Linked DNA regions of Homo sapiens: regions 1, 2 and 4 are each reported to be linked to region 3. The links are microRNA targets in miRTarBase. Many come from high-throughput screens and were not tested one by one. Region 3 holds a microRNA gene; each other region holds the end of a gene's coding sequence.
Evidence for each region. Region 3 holds the annotated microRNA hsa-miR-1245a (AAGUGAUCUAAAGGCCUACAU, at 3,082-3,102, shown strand). A microRNA usually pairs through its seed, bases 2 to 8, with sites in the 3' UTR of a target mRNA and lowers its output. Matches are read on the target gene's strand: a 7mer-m8 pairs with bases 2 to 8, a 7mer-A1 pairs with bases 2 to 7 and ends in A, and an 8mer does both.

Region 1 (4,000 bases), not on the chromosome of region 3:
TAGGCTTTGGTTCAAATTATATCTGCACAGAAAAGCCTATCCTGAAAACTCTTCCTAAAATAACTCAGGTTACAATCTATGAACTTACCAGGCTTTATATTTCTTCCTAGCACTTAACTGAATTCGATTTTGTATTTATCTTACTCAGTCTCCTTCACCAGACTGTATGTCATATCAAAGCCAGCACTTTGCCTGTTTTGTTCATTGATGTGTCTCCATTGCCTACAACATGCCTGCCATGGTGTAGAAGCTCAAAAAATATTTTCAAAGAAGTAAATTACTCAATATGGAGTCAGGGATTGAATTCTGCCACAATACTATATGGCAAATGTCTATTACTTTTATAAAGAGAACTCACCATTTATAAACTGGATTAAATCTCATTAGATCAAGGGAAATAACTCTGGATAGAGAAAACAGGAACCCTGTTTCTAGGGAAACTAATAATTTTTTGCCACCAGGCCTGCTCAAAGAGAAATGATTAAGGAAGTTCGCACAAAAAGGAAATAACTAAAGGAAATATTACATCAGGAATGAAGAAAAAGGAACAGAAAGGGTAAATATATTATAAAATATAATATTCTTTTGAGTTTTAAACATTGGGTTTGCTGGTTGGAAGCAAAAGTTACAATTTTACTTGATATGGTTCTCAGTGGATGTAGAGATGCTTAATATCATTTTGTGTTAGGGGTGTGTAAGTTGAGGCCATGATCATATACCACCACACACCTAATAGGAAAGCTAAAGCACACTGGCAATGCCAAGAGCTAGAAAGGGCATGGAATGCTTACACATTGGTGGTGGGAATGTAAACTAGTACAGCCACTCTGGGAAAGAGTTTGGCCATTTCTTATAAAGTTAAACACATTTACCATATTCGCCAGCAGTCATGCCCCCAGTGTCTATCCCAAATATATAAAAACTTAACGTTCGCACAATATCGGGTACACAAATAGTCACAGCATCTTTATTTATAACAGCAAAACACTGGAAACAACCCAAATGTCCATCAACAGTGAATGGATACACAAACCCTGGTGCATCCATTTAAAAGAATACTAACTCAGTAACAAAAATTAAAACTATTTAGACACCTAACAACTTGGATAGATCTTAAGGGTAATTTGCTGAGTGAACAAAGCCCTATCTCAAAGCTTGCGTACCTTACGATTCCATTTTAATAGCATTCTTGAAATAACAAAATTAGGGTAATGGGATCAGTGGCTACCATGGGTCATATTGGGAGGACAGTGTGAGTATAAAGAGGTAGCAAGAGGAGGCCAGGCGTGGTGGCTCATGCCTGTAATCCCAGCACTTTGGGAGGCTGAGGCGGGTGGACCGCCCGGGGTCGAGAGTTCAAGGCCAGCCTGGCCAACACAGTGAAACCCCGTCTCTACTAAAAATACAAAAATTAGTCGAGCGTGGTCGTGGGTGCCTGTAATCCCAGCTACTTAGGAGGCTGAGGCAGGAAAATCTCTTGAACCTGGGAGGCGGGGTTGCAGTGAGCCAAGATCGTGCTATTACACTCCAACCTGGGCAACAAGAGCAGAACTCCGTGGTTTTTATTATTATGGTTATGTAAGATAACATTGATGATGCTAAGCAAAGAATACTCAGGAAACTTTTGTATATTTTGTAATCTCTTGTGAATCTAGAATTATTTCAAAACAAATTTTAGAAAAATAACATTTAAGGCATTTTTGTAAACTACATAATGGTACCTAGTAACTTGGATAAACACATCCAAATATACTGAATTACATTTATCAGTAAATTGAAAAAAATAAATTTGGGGCCTATAATATGTAAGAACTAATAAATAACACCAGATTGGCACAGAAAACACCTGTGTTATATATAGGATTAAAATTTAATCAGTGATAAGAACAGCCCGCTTTACAATTATGGAATCATTGATAATATGATGCAAGGTATGCTGTCACAGAATAGATATCAAGTGTATCATGAGTTTAGATTTGTGACAGTCCTCAAATATGGTTTTTTTTTTTTTTTTTTGAGGCAGAGTTTCGCTCTTGTTGCCCAGGCTGGAATGCAATGGCGCAATCTTGGCTCACTGAAACCTCTGCCTCCCAGGTTCAAGTGATTCTCCAGCTTAGCCTCCAGAGTAGCTGGGATTACAAGCGTGAGCCACCATGCTCGGCTAATTTTGTATTTTTAGTAGAGAGGGGGGCTTCACCATGTTGGTCAGGCTGGTCTCGAACTCCCGACCTCAAGTGATCCACCCACCTTGGCCTCCCAAAGTGCTGGGATTACAGGTGCAAGCCACCATGCCCGGCATTATGTATCATTTTCATGAGACTTTTTTACTTCATGAATTTCCTGATCCTTTTTAAAGTTACTCTTCATATAAGTTTTATTTCTGTATGAAGTAATGATGATGAGGCAGCATGTATCACTGAAATCCTCGTGTATTCACTGCCATCTGAAACTTGTTCTCCAGTATGAAATATATCTGCCAACTGTTAAGGTTTTATTTCTGGGCAAAGGCTTTCCCATGATAATGCTGCTAGTATGTGTAAGTTCATTGATGATCTATTATGATCACTGAAGAGATAGGGTCTTTCTTCCCATAGAAGGCTTTCCTAGCCTACTCCTTTGTAAGATTTATCTCAGTAAATACTTTTCAAGACATAGTTACTTAGAAAATTTTCAAGACTTTTCTGCATTGGATGTATCAAGTTTATTTCCTACATGTTTATTGTGACATAAAATATGAGGTAATTAATCACCGAAGGCACTAGTGCATTCTCTGCATTCATTAAAATTCGCTCCTGGAAATTGCATTGTCTTCCAAGGGTGAAAATCTAGCAACAGGCTGCTCTACACTGCCTATATGCATGTATGCTAGGAGCACACTGCTGTTTAATCAGTTCACATTACTAACGTGGTTTTCTCTCTGCATGAATTTGTTTGTATGTAATCAGTTCAGATTCTCTGCAAAAGGACTATGTACCTTACACATTTGTCATGTGGACGTTGTCATAGTTTTAATGAAGGTTGACAAATGAAAGGTTACCCCCAATCCACAGACTCTCTCTCAGATGAGTAATTTTCTATACATTGGTACATCAAAGAATTCAGAGCCTGAATTCATGTTGAAGCCTTTCTGACATTGATAGCATTCATCCTAGTGAATAACACTGGATTTTGAAATATGATTTTTCATACTCAGTACACATGTAGAAAATCTATACTGTGAAATCTCTGATGTTGTACAAGGCAGATTTTCTTCCCAAAGGCATGAACATGTCCACTGCATTGTCAGGGTTTGTTTCCATTATGAGTTCGCTGATGTACAATGAGATTTCTCTTTGAGGAGAAGGCTTTTCTACATTCACTGCATACAAAGGGTTTCTCTCCTGTATGAGTTCGTTGATGAACAATTAGACGGCTCTTCATAGTGAAGCCTTTACCACATTCATTACATCCATAAGGTTTTTCTCCAGTATGAACTTGCTTATGTAAAGCAAGCTCTGTTTCCTTGGCAAAGCCTCTTCCACATTCACTACATATACAAGATTTCTCTTCTGTATGAATTTGCTGATGTACAATGAGATAGCGTTTCATGGTGAAGCCTTTTCCACATTCACTGCACATAAAGGGTTTCTCTCCAGTATGAGTTCGCTGGTGTACAACAAGATTGCTCTTAAAGGCAAAACCTTTTCCACATTCATTGCATATGTACGGTTTCTCTCCAGTATGAGTTCGCTGATGTAACATCAGTCCGCTATTCACAATGAAACCTTTCCCACATTCACTGCACCTGTAAGGTTTCTCTCCAGTATGAGTTCGCTGATGTACAATCAGCCGACTCTTCAAGGGGAAGCCTTTCCCACATTCACTGCATGTGTAGGGCTTCTCTCCTGTATGAGTTCGCTGATGTATGATGAGCATGCTTTTCACAGTAAAACCTTTTCCACATTCACTACATAGATATGACTTCTCTACTGTATGATTTCTCTGATGTACAATAAGATTA
Region 2 (4,000 bases), not on the chromosome of region 3:
ATGCATGCTGTGGTGCAGCTATCCGATACTTACATTACAAAAATACTCCAAACAGGAAAAAAGTCCACATTCTGTGAGTCATATAAACCTACTAGGAATGAAAAATACCCTGGAACTTGGAACTAAAAGAAGAAAAGAATGCTCCTAGAAAGATTCTCACAGATTTCAGTGTTCTTTGATAAGCACTGCTATTAATTTCACTGGTATGCTTTTAAATGAGATTCTCACTGTAATGACACTCTTGAGATTAAGATAGTAACAGTGTATTTTGTTAATGCAGAGACAATGGAGACTTCCTAACTTACATTTTGGAAAATCTGAAATGTTGGTTCATTCCAAATAGCTCCTCTAACAAAAGTCTCTCAATTTTACCTTTTCTTTTTTCCCCATGTTTTAATGGATTGTGAATCTGAGACAAAAGTGGAAGCATAAGACTAAAGGAGAAAAAACCTTACTTCCAAAGAACATTTCCCAAAGTAGTTTACAAAGTTCATCTCACACAAAATTAGCACCTCACTCTTACCATGCAAAAATAACTGCAGTTATAATTTGAATGACAGACAATTTGGTTTTTATTGCTTAATGATCTGTGCTTTAATGTGGGGATAAAAGGCATCCTCTGAATGGAATAACATTTTATATAAATAGCAGTAGGAAAATGTAAATAAGCATTGATATCCCACTGCTGAACACTTGGCCGTTGTGATATGCCCTGAAAAACTCAGCTTGAATTATCTCAAGCTCTAGATAAAAGAGCTGAAACCCATTAAAGTTGTCATTTCAAAAGGACTTGTACACATTATGTTAATAATGTATATACTTCCAAAGAGCCTCTTTTAATGTCACTGTCATATAGAATGTCCATATTCTACTAATCGTTATTAGAAAAAATTTAATTAGGGAGAACAGACTGTTTCCCCCTTCCAATCTACCTAAGAATAAACAGGAAATAAAAGTATAGGAAATTTTAGAGCATATTTAATTATGAATACTAAATTTCTAATTTCCTTATTTATCAGTATTTACTTAGTATGTGAGGCTGAAATCTGTTCTTGAAAAAAAGTTCAATTAGAAATAACAATTCACTTTACGATTAGAAATTCATAGTTTACAACCAGCACAACTGCCCAGATTCCTCCCAATTATTCAATAATTACCAATAGTACAAATTTATATGGACTAAGATTAATCCTAAAATCTTTAAAAACTACAGTATTGACATTATTTTGGTATTCTATAGTCTGTAATATCTATTATTTATAGATGATTTTCTCAATTATTTCTATTACTGCTGATATCATTCCTAACCTCTTCTGCTATAATTTAATATTTTTAAACACTTAAGTTAATCACTTGGCACTGCATGTATTTTTCACCATAAAGTCTACTTTTTACAAACAAGTACTCAAAGAAAATGTATTAGACCTGTCAGTGAAATCATGGAGAAACCAAATAGCACTATAAATTTAAGCGTAGACTTTTTTTTTTTTTTAGTATACTGATAACCACAAAGCTCTGAGTATCTCCCCAAAGTAAGTGATATAGGCAGATATGATAAGGTATACATACATATTTTTCAAAGTAACAGTAAAAAAAAAAAACAAAAAAAAAAACACAAAACATTCAGGCCAATACTAACTAAGCCTTATTTCAGGATAGATGACCAAGGTGAGGGTACAGGGATAGTGATGGTGGGGGAGGGGGTGTGTGTGTGTGTAAGACAAAAAAAAAATTACTGTTAACTTTTGAGGGATTAAACCACAGATTTTTATACTCTATATTAACTGAGGTAGTGTTTAAAATGAATGTCTAAAATATGTTAATCCCATTATGAATAAGATTACATTACTTCCTTTGGAGGTTTTAACCACTATTTGGTCTAGTAACTCTGACATTTGGTTCTCTGGAAAGGCAGTTTAGTTATCCAAGACCAAAGACCACGATGACAGGCAACGTTCTTAGAAGTACTGTTGACATTTAAATAAACACTTGGGTTCAGTGATAAAGTATAAAAAAATTATTTATCTTCAACTGGATTTTATGAGAGAAAATCTGAAGAACCACTTTTCAACATAAGCAGCAGCTTACAGCCCTTATCTGCTTTGTTATAATGTAAGTTGCTACACAGTGCACATAAGAACAATTCACTGAAGTGCAGTCAAAGAGGTGTTATGAAGTGAGATGAAATGCTTCATCCCAACTGGAACTTTCAGTTCCAGTAAATAAATTTTTTAAAAAAGTATCTCTGTGAGTTATGTTTTCTAGTTCACAGGGTTCTTTACAGAGATCTCAAAGAACAAGCCCATTACAAAAAGGATCTGCATCATGGGAAAATATTAATGTTGCTATGACTGTGTCAAAACTGATGTGTAATTGTAATAAAAATGTTATACACAAATGAATTAAAAAAGAATCCTAATCAGTCCAGCTGGATTTTCTATTTCTATTTATATATAGATCTCAAAAAAGATAATCCTTTCATTTACAAGCATTCAAATGATGGCCATGCTATTTTTATATACAAATTTGCATATATGTTTAATTCCTGTAAAAAGTTCCAAATACCTTTAGACATATACAAATTAAACAAACAAAAACCTTGCCCTCATCAACTTAACTTCACAAATGGATAAAGGCAATTAATATACTCATAAACCCACCTACCACTGCATTTAGTTTGTGCAAAACAAAAACACTGATATAAAAATTAAGTTACTGCTGCTTTAAAATTTGGTACTTAAGGCTTTTCACTACAATTTTTCTCAATAACAAGCTTTATTAATGTTTTTTTTAAGGAAATATGGCTCTTCTTTCCCCATGGAATGTGTAAATTGCAAGCAAACTTATCTTTTCCTCAGGAGATCCAAAGTATTATTTAATGCTTTCCTATCCTTTAGGTCTAAACTAACAGTGCTTGTTCAAGTTCCTGTTTAAAGCGATGAGATGGAAAGTTGATGAAAGTGGAAGTCCATTGCAAATATATGCATTCTATAAATGGGAAATATTTTTAATTAAAATAAAAAATGATTTTTAAATTTTATTCAAGAACTGTAGTGAAAAACCTTAATTGGTTCATATATCCTGTAATAACACATTGCAACAAAATGAAGAGTTGGAAAACAAGAATCTTTATGCAAGTCTAGTAACATAAAAATAACTTATAAGTCCCGGGTTGTTGAGGCTCTTCTTCTGCTTTGAGGTTATAAACCTCTGAAGTAGTGTTACAAACATTAAGAAAAACGTGAAAGGGCCAAAGTTCCCTCTCTAATACCAGCAGTTATAGCACACCCCATTGTGGTAATAGGATGCAGCCTTAGAGACACTGATTCCTGCTTTCCACAAGTTAGTTAACAAACAAGGCATCTGTATTATTTACCCTAAAAATCATTCAGAAATAACTTGTGAAGGGTGCTTCTGCATATCCCATTATTGTTCCACTGTCATTATGCTTTTAAAATGAAAGAAAATAGAAAACCTATGTAGGTATTCAGTGCTTGGCTCTTGCATACAATGGTAACTGAAACTCTTAAAACTGTGGTAATGAATCATGAACCCCTCAAAAGGCTCAACAAAGGAGAGAAGGAAGTTGTTTTGGTTAGGAAAGTCAGCAGTTCCAACTGTTCATGTACCAGTAACTGCGGAACAGTGTACAGAAGATACTCCTGTCTTTGCTGCCTAGTCAGTCGTATTTTCTGAGGCTTTTAGGAAATCCACAAATATGAATATATATAGTATGTATCTATATCCATCATAAATATGAGGTCAGGATTCAGCAGATGTATCAACTATAGGTTGCTTTGGTGGTGTTGCCAACACAGCCTCTGCTTCTTCATGCATCTAGGGAAAAAATGGTGTATCATCAATTACTTTTATAAAAACAGATGATATAACATATTTATATAAATATCTAATTTTTTTTTTTTTTTGAGATAGGGTCTTGCTCAGTCTTCCCAGGATGCAGCACAATGTTGCCATCTTTGTTCATTGCAACCTCTGAGTC
Region 3 (4,155 bases):
AATCATTGAATATATTTCTGTAAAATGGCTACAAGATACCTATAAACATTCTTCAAAGGGATCAAACTGCTAAAATATTTTATTATTCCTGTTTTTATTTTGTTTCAAGAATGATTGATTAATTCATCTTTTCTAGTAGCTTGATATTAAGGGACTAATATTTTCCACATATTCTACGTTTTAACCACATTCGCATTAATGAAGAAAATATTTTTTAAAATGTTTCAACAGGAGGTTTGACTTTGCTGCAAACAAGGTAAAGATACTAGTACTGTTTGACTTCAGAAAGCTGTTTTGCTATATTTTCTAATAATTGCATGTAATGTTTTTCATATTCTAATTTCCCCTAAAAACACATTTGTCTCATTATTTATGTGAAAATATTCTTTTATTTACCATAGTCATGAAAATGCTGAACAAATTGGAATACAAACTTCCATAGAAATAAATATTTAAGTGCTAAATGTAAAGATAGCTAGGAGAAATTATTAGACAATTTTTATTGCACATAACTAAACATGGTTACATTTAAACATATAGATTTTGCAAAGGACACTGCATGAAAATTTGGTTTTTGTTTGTAATATCAAATGTATTTGTTGTCCTCATAGCTAATACATGTAAATGTGTGTATGAGGGGAGGGGTAGATATACAATGAAATGTCTTCAGTTATATTCAGCCCATGGACACAAAAGAAAAGAAACACCCATTTTCCTTGTTCCCTTAATTTCCTCTCCTCCTTACCCCTCCTCTCCTTCGCTTTGCCCTCCTCCTTATCTCTCTCCACCCCTTTTGGCTCCTTTAGACTTCTCTTCACTCATCACCCCACCCCTTCCTAGGCAAGCCCATATCTACTCCTCTCTCCTCCTCTGTCTTCCCTGCCTGTTACTCCCTCCCTACTCCCCATGTGGCCTCCTTATGCCTCCATTTCTTTTTTTTAGTTCTCTCTCTCCTTGCCTCCTCACCCTTTCTTTCCCCTGAACTCTCAATCCTTCTTCCTTTCTCATTCCTCTCCCCTTTTCCTCCCTATCCTGCTCTTCCCAGGAGATGCTACAACTCACAGTCCTTTTTTAGGATACCAAATGACTACTATCCCCCACCAACCATTTATTGAAAAGACTACAAACTTAGGGGTTTTAGCTCAAAAAATTGCAACATATTTGTAGTTGCCTCGTGGTTGCAAGCTTTTTATAAGCACTGTGGCTATTTTTCTTCCCAATCCAACTTTAGTGGGGGGGTGTTTGCCACTTACAGTACCTTGACATCACATTAAGTTCTGTTTATTTCCCTCTTTCTCTTTAGATGCAAAAAATAATCAATAAGTATAAAATTTTGCTGATATGTGTTTGTGTGTTCTTAAGCTCAAAAAGAGTTGAAAGAGAACTGTTCAGCCTATTTTTTTTGTCATGAGTAAAAGTAAAGTTGAAGTGACTTAAGACAGTACATCTTATGTTCCCTGTGGGTTTTACAAGGAAATTCTGCTATTAGATAAGCTTTGGAAAAGTTACAGGAGGTATCTGAATATACAGCACACTGAGAGCTGTCATAAAGTTCTGGGGTGGGGTTTCTTATATATGCCCTCATAACTTCAGAGACGGCACAGCTCTAATGAACACTCACTTCTAGTTCACTCACAGGCATTTTCTGGATACAAACAAGTCCTCAAAAAGAATTTTGGTCGTCTTACAAATTTGTGAACATTGTATTTAATTCATGTGTTTTAATCCACCAATGGAGAAACATAGTCTGTTTTATATTTCCTGTAGATTATAAACATGCCAAGTTTTAAGTACAAAGATGCGTCACCTAGTGGCTGACAAGCCAGGTTACCATTTACATAACGAATGCCAATATTAATGTTATGTAGCTGGCTTTGGTAGTTTATAATGAGCTTTAAAAAATTCATATGCGTGAATTTTAAATGTTAACACTGCTCTCCTAAGGAAATTAGTATGTTACGGATAAATATTGCAAACACATATACTGACACGAAAACACAATGGTAACAATATTCAGAGTCTTTTTGGAAATTAGCTTAAATGTTACGGCCACTTAAAAATTCTACATATGACTATTGTTTAAATACATTTTTCATGTCTCTGATGTAGTCCTTATTTGACATAAGTATTTTATTCACTGCTTAATTGTTAGATAGATTATAGACAGCTGTTACTAAGTAATACTGCTCCATTAGGGCAGAAACAGAAACTTTATTTTAATTAAATGTGTACTAATGTTTGAGTTTCTATATTTTGCTACAGTGATAATTCCAGTAAAATAAACTGTAGGCCTCTAGTTGTTTTAGAATTTTAAAACTGTAAATGGACTCAGAGAATCAGTTTCTTATTAGACGTCATGAGAGTATATTTTTTTCATTATGCTTTAAGAGGGAATTTGTAACTTGCTCAGGTAACATTCAAGTTTTCTGGTTTGTGTTTGTCCCTACAATTAAACACACTGAACTAACAGGAAAAGGTTACATACATTTAGGAACAATTGCACTTTTAAAGGGAGAGAATGCATAGTTGCTCACATATCTCAGTGTCAGTCACCTAACATGGATCAGTGCTTTATTTGAGATTACAAAACTAGAAAATGACGGAGTCAAGGCTAGGACCAATATTCTGTTCAGTCTTAGATAATTATAGAATACACATTAAAATCAGATATTTGAATTTTCTTAATTTTGTAACTATTTGTCATTGAAAGGAGATACTAAAAAAATTATATATCGTCCTAGAAAGTACATGAACTAATAATGCATTTCTAAAGGTGAAAAAAGAATAGGTATTTTTCTGTTTAATATTCAATTTTATAGAGAGTAGTACGTTAATTTTTTTAAACCCCAGAAGCTCAGGATCTTATCATTTTAAAAGAAATTATCACCAGTTCTGTGTGAGTAAATAAAGTATTATAACACTTTGTGTTTTTCATCCATGATACCTTGTATTTACTTACCTGAGCTTTTTTTCTAGGGAAAGAAAAATGCTCAGGTAATAACAGAGCCTTGAAAAATTTGGATTTTCAAAACTACCTATTTATGTATAGGCCTTTAGATCATCTGATGTTGAATACTCTTTAAGTGATCTAAAGGCCTACATATAAAAAGGTATTTTTATTAAATTCTGGAATTAAACATTTCAGCATTACAAGAAAAGAAAGCAAATCCACTGGAACAATTCTGGGAAAGAAGGAAAGACTGTGATTAAATGCCTCTTAACTACTTCAGATTCCTGGATTGATGTCTTATCTACAGGCTTCTTTTTAAAAATCAAGAATGATTGGCTGTGAGTTTACCAGGATTATAGTTGAGGCTAAAGGACAGCTCCTCAGGAAAGCCCCTGTTCTACATCTACGGTCACATGCTGGACCTTGAGTTGTCACTCAGAGAAAAGAGTGCCATCTACCGAAACTCCACAGTTTCCATTGTGAATGGCTTCTTTGGTGCAGAGTTCCAAAAATTATGTAGCCCAGCTCTTTAATTTTGTAACATCTAATGATATCACCGCCTTGAAGTGATTAAAGTAGATTGCTTAAAGAATTAAAGCTTTAAAGATGAAAGATGTTATTGCTTTTGCTGGACATGAGGAACAGTTGTAAAGTTTCCAGGTCTACAATAACTTTCTGGAACCCTCTCAGTGAACTGTTTCTTGTAAAAGTTTTCCCTAAGATAAAAGCTCAATCCCATTGTTTCCACACTCAAAAAAAAAAAAAAAAAAAAGATCATATAGTGTAAAAAAAAACTCTCCAGACTTTTCAAAGGGGAAACTTTGCCTGTTTCATGTCAAGATGACAACGGAAAAAATGAGATAGCTATTCTTACATAAATCATTTGTGAACTGCAGTTGGGGGAGTTACATTAACCACCAGAGTTTCAGTCTGTGTCTAATGAAAACACAGCAGAAGTGGATTCCTTTCAGATTAACTAATAAAACCCTTGTTTTTTTCCATGACTGAGGTCAAGCACTGCTGTTTAAAATGTAGTCTTAATGAACAAAATGAAACGTTGAAAGAGGACGAGTCAAAATGCCCAAAAGATGTAAACATCAAAGAGAAAAGATCCAGAAATTATTAAAAGTTAAACTTCCCTTGAATTCTAGTATTAAGAAAGTACTGCTTCAGTAAAATGGCATATATTTTTCTGAAACTGTTTT
Region 4 (4,000 bases), not on the chromosome of region 3:
TGAAATTTCTCTTTTGGAAAGTAATTCAATAGCTGACGAAGAACTTGCATTGATAAATACCCAAGCTCTTTTGTCTGGTTCAACAGGAGAAAAACAATTTATATCTGTCAGTGAATCCACTAGGACTGCTCCCACCAGTTCAGAAGATTATCTCAGACTGAAACGACGTTGTACTACATCTCTGATCAAAGAACAGGAGAGTTCCCAGGCCAGTACGGAAGAATGTGAGAAAAATAAGCAGGACACAATTACAACTAAAAAATATATCTAAGCATTTGCAAAGGCGACAATAAATTATTGACGCTTAACCTTTCCAGTTTATAAGACTGGAATATAATTTCAAACCACACATTAGTACTTATGTTGCACAATGAGAAAAGAAATTAGTTTCAAATTTACCTCAGCGTTTGTGTATCGGGCAAAAATCGTTTTGCCCGATTCCGTATTGGTATACTTTTGCTTCAGTTGCATATCTTAAAACTAAATGTAATTTATTAACTAATCAAGAAAAACATCTTTGGCTGAGCTCGGTGGCTCATGCCTGTAATCCCAACACTTTGAGAAGCTGAGGTGGGAGGAGTGCTTGAGGCCAGGAGTTCAAGACCAGCCTGGGCAACATAGGGAGACCCCCATCTTTACAAAGAAAAAAAAAAGGGGAAAAGAAAATCTTTTAAATCTTTGGATTTGATCACTACAAGTATTATTTTACAAGTGAAATAAACATACCATTTTCTTTTAGATTGTGTCATTAAATGGAATGAGGTCTCTTAGTACAGTTATTTTGATGCAGATAATTCCTTTTAGTTTAGCTACTATTTTAGGGGATTTTTTTTAGAGGTAACTCACTATGAAATAGTTCTCCTTAATGCAAATATGTTGGTTCTGCTATAGTTCCATCCTGTTCAAAAGTCAGGATGAATATGAAGAGTGGTGTTTCCTTTTGAGCAATTCTTCATCCTTAAGTCAGCATGATTATAAGAAAAATAGAACCCTCAGTGTAACTCTAATTCCTTTTTACTATTCCAGTGTGATCTCTGAAATTAAATTACTTCAACTAAAAATTCAAATACTTTAAATCAGAAGATTTCATAGTTAATTTATTTTTTTTTTCAACAAAATGGTCATCCAAACTCAAACTTGAGAAAATATCTTGCTTTCAAATTGGCACTGATTCTGCCTGCTTTATTTTTAGCGCTATCACAGGACCCAGAGCCTATGCCCTTTTAAACTTACCACAAAAGCAGAAGATTAATTCAATTTAAGATGATACTCTCATTTGTTACGTCCTTTTTTTTTTTTTTTGGAGATGGAGTCTTGCTTTGTCGCCCATGCTGGAGTGCAGTGGCATGATCCTGGCTCACTGCAGCCTCCACTTCCCGGGTTCACGTAATTCTCCCACCTCAAGCCTCCCTAGTAGCTGGGATTACAGGGACGCACCACCATGCCCAGCTAATTTTTGCATTTTTAGTAGAGACTGGGTTTTACCATGTTGGCCAAGCTGGTCTCAAACTCCTGATGTCAGGTGATCCATCTGCCTCAGCCTCCCAAAGTGCTGGGATTATAGGCGTGAGCCACTGTGCCCGGCCAATATTTGTTACTTTCTTAGGTTTAATAGAGAAAAGGGATAAAACATTTCTAACTGGGAGTTAATTGCATGGAGAAGGTCTTAAATCAGATGTTTTAATGCCTTAAATGTCTGTATAATATCATGTTTTCAAATCTAATTATAAATACGTTTAAAGCCAAGAATAAATCTTTTAAAAAATTGACTTGTTTCCTTCCATAACTCTGAGCCATGATTTTTCTGTTCTGTAAAAAGCATTAACAAAATTGTCTATTTTGCTACTCCCTGTAACTTAAGTATTCTGCAAGTCTTATTAATGAGACTTGTTTTGTTTCTAAAACAGTTTGGTTTTCACATCCTAATTTTGCAGTGATCCACTCTAGAACAAGGAATAAAACTTGGGTTTCAAACAGGAGAACAGAAAAAATTACAAGAATTTAACCTTTTCTTTTTTGAATCCTTGGTACAACTGCTATTGTCTGTTCTCATGTAGAACACCCATTATGTTGATAGATATGTAATGCGCACACTTTTTTATAAATTATAAATAACATCCAAGCTACATGAAACAAAATATGAAGCTTGAGTATATGTGCATATTATCCCCTCAAAAGTGACAATTTAATGACTACAAAGTCAACATACTGCATCATAAGGGATAATGGTAAAAATTTGTGTTATTTATTCAGCAATCATTTAATGAGACCCTATTGCCCATAAAGAGCATTTGCCAGTTCTATGAATGATGCAAACAGCGAACACAATACAAGTCAATATTGGGTGTTCAAAGAGTTACACAAATCAGAAGCCATGGGAGTTGAAAAACAGATCACTTCTACAGGGGATAAAGTTGATGGCATTTAATCAATTTTTATGGTTTACAAACCAAATATTTCAGGGGTCAGCTAGGGAAAGAAGAGACATTAAATAGGCCAGGAAACTATTCTTTAGAGCTCTAGAAAAGTTATGTAACCCAGAGCCACTTCTCCATAGTGGTCACTCACTTAACCCAAGTGAGCCAAAAACCCTAAAGCAGGGAGCCAGCCAAGTCAGGAGGGCTTGAATCTGGTCCTTTGAACCGCTCATGTGAAATCAAAGGATGGTAATTTCCACTTTGAGCTCTCTGACATTTCTCCCCTCTACCAGCCCAGACGAGTCAAGCCATCCATATTGAGCTGGTTATGCCACCACCCTATCAACCAAGATACCCAGGACTACCTGGGCCTGGAAAATGGGAGCATTATTAAGTAGATCATTAGGAGATTATTTTATGTTGTGCTTGGAGATACAGAAGTTAGCAAAGCTGATAACACCTTAGATTCATTGGGATTTACTATTGTCAGCCAAACTTACTCAAAGGAGATACCAGTTTTTAAAATGTTAGTGAAGAAAACATTACACATGGTGTTGGTAGTCATGGAGATGTCGAGCAGGTTTCAGTAGTGTCAGATAACGTTAAAACAGTCTCATGTACACAGATCAAATATATAAGCAACTAAATTATAAGGCTGCTTTTGTCATTACCTTTACGATTCCTATTTATTAAAAAAAAGACTGGTAAATAAGCCTGTGATACAGAAAAACTGGTATATTGTTGAGTTTCTTGGCATTTAGGTAATTAAATTTTTTTATTGTTGAACCAAAAAAAGATCCAATGACAAATCCATATAAATGTGATACCATTTACAATTTTTAATAACCATAAAAGCACCATTATATAAGACACTTAAAATAATTTTTCACAGAACATTAGAAAGAAGCTGTTGGCCAACAAGAAATAGAGCATACGTCCTCTGTGGTCTTGTCTATCATGATCTCACATTAAATCTGATTCCAACCTGTTGGAAATTAATTTGGATTCATAAATTCAGCATCAGTATAAGAAGACATTCCAGAGTTGTGAGGACTTGATTGTCTTAATGCCACATAAAACATCAACTGCTCATTTTGTAATGAGCATGGCTTTTATATATCCCTGTATGACCTATATCCTGGGGTGCCTAATTTCTTGCACTCCCAAACATTTGAGCTGCCGACTAATTACACATGTTAATAGGCATAATTTTAGAAGTCGTTTATTCCTTTTAAAAGTTAGTGTTTTATGAAGGCAGGCTTATTTTATTTACACTATTAGCACAACAGCCAAAAGTTATTCAGGTTTAATCCTGCTGAATAAAGTAGTAAAAACACAAGGCGTGACTTTAAATAATGACACTGATTTCCCTCAGTAGCTCCTGTAGCTATTAAGGATTTGACAGCATTTTTAACAATGATACATCATTAAAATAAAGAAATAACTTCCCAAAGTGTCTACTTTGAAGGACAATGTTCCCTTAGATGTATGCTTTCTGGCATATTAACATTAAAGGAAAATCAGTATCATAAGAGTCGCACATCTCACATTTTTAGATACATAGATTATCAAAGTAGCAATGG

Region 1: the mRNA of ZNF432 is a reported target of hsa-miR-1245a. Seed matches in the 3' UTR shown: 7mer-m8 at 2,234-2,240.
Region 2: miRTarBase lists RICTOR as a target of hsa-miR-1245a. Seed matches in the 3' UTR shown: 7mer-A1 at 1,684-1,690.
Region 4: the mRNA of BRCA2 is a reported target of hsa-miR-1245a. Seed matches in the 3' UTR shown: 8mer at 687-694.

What each region holds. Positions count from the first base shown.
Region 1 is chr19:52,030,438-52,034,437 of GRCh38, forward strand. ZNF432 (zinc finger protein 432) reads right to left here. Exons shown (of 5, transcript NM_014650.4): 5 at 941-4,000. The coding sequence ends at 3,283. Among named protein-coding and RNA genes, the nearest start is that of ZNF614, 4.1 kb to the left of the region's middle.
Region 2 is chr5:38,938,542-38,942,541 of GRCh38, forward strand. RICTOR (RPTOR independent companion of MTOR complex 2) reads right to left here. Exons shown (of 38, transcript NM_152756.5): 38 at 1-3,837. The coding sequence ends at 3,763. It also overlaps a transcript of OSMR not described here. Among named protein-coding and RNA genes, the nearest start is that of OSMR, 95 kb to the left of the region's middle.
Region 3 is chr2:188,975,055-188,979,209 of GRCh38, forward strand. It overlaps MIR1245A (microRNA 1245a), which reads left to right and starts at 3,038; the gene lies at 3,038-3,107. The region is part of intron 1 of COL3A1 (collagen type III alpha 1 chain); the gene reads left to right. MIR1245B (microRNA 1245b) reads right to left here and starts at 3,107; the gene lies at 3,039-3,107. All of the region lies in intron 1 of LOC105373791 (a long non-coding RNA gene), which reads right to left.
Region 4 is chr13:32,398,500-32,402,499 of GRCh38, forward strand. BRCA2 (BRCA2 DNA repair associated) reads left to right here. Exons shown (of 27, transcript NM_000059.4): 27 at 1-1,769. The coding sequence ends at 271. N4BP2L1 (NEDD4 binding protein 2 like 1) reads right to left here. Exons shown (of 5, transcript NM_052818.3): 5 at 2,224-4,000. Among named protein-coding and RNA genes, the nearest start is that of N4BP2L1, 28 kb to the right of the region's middle.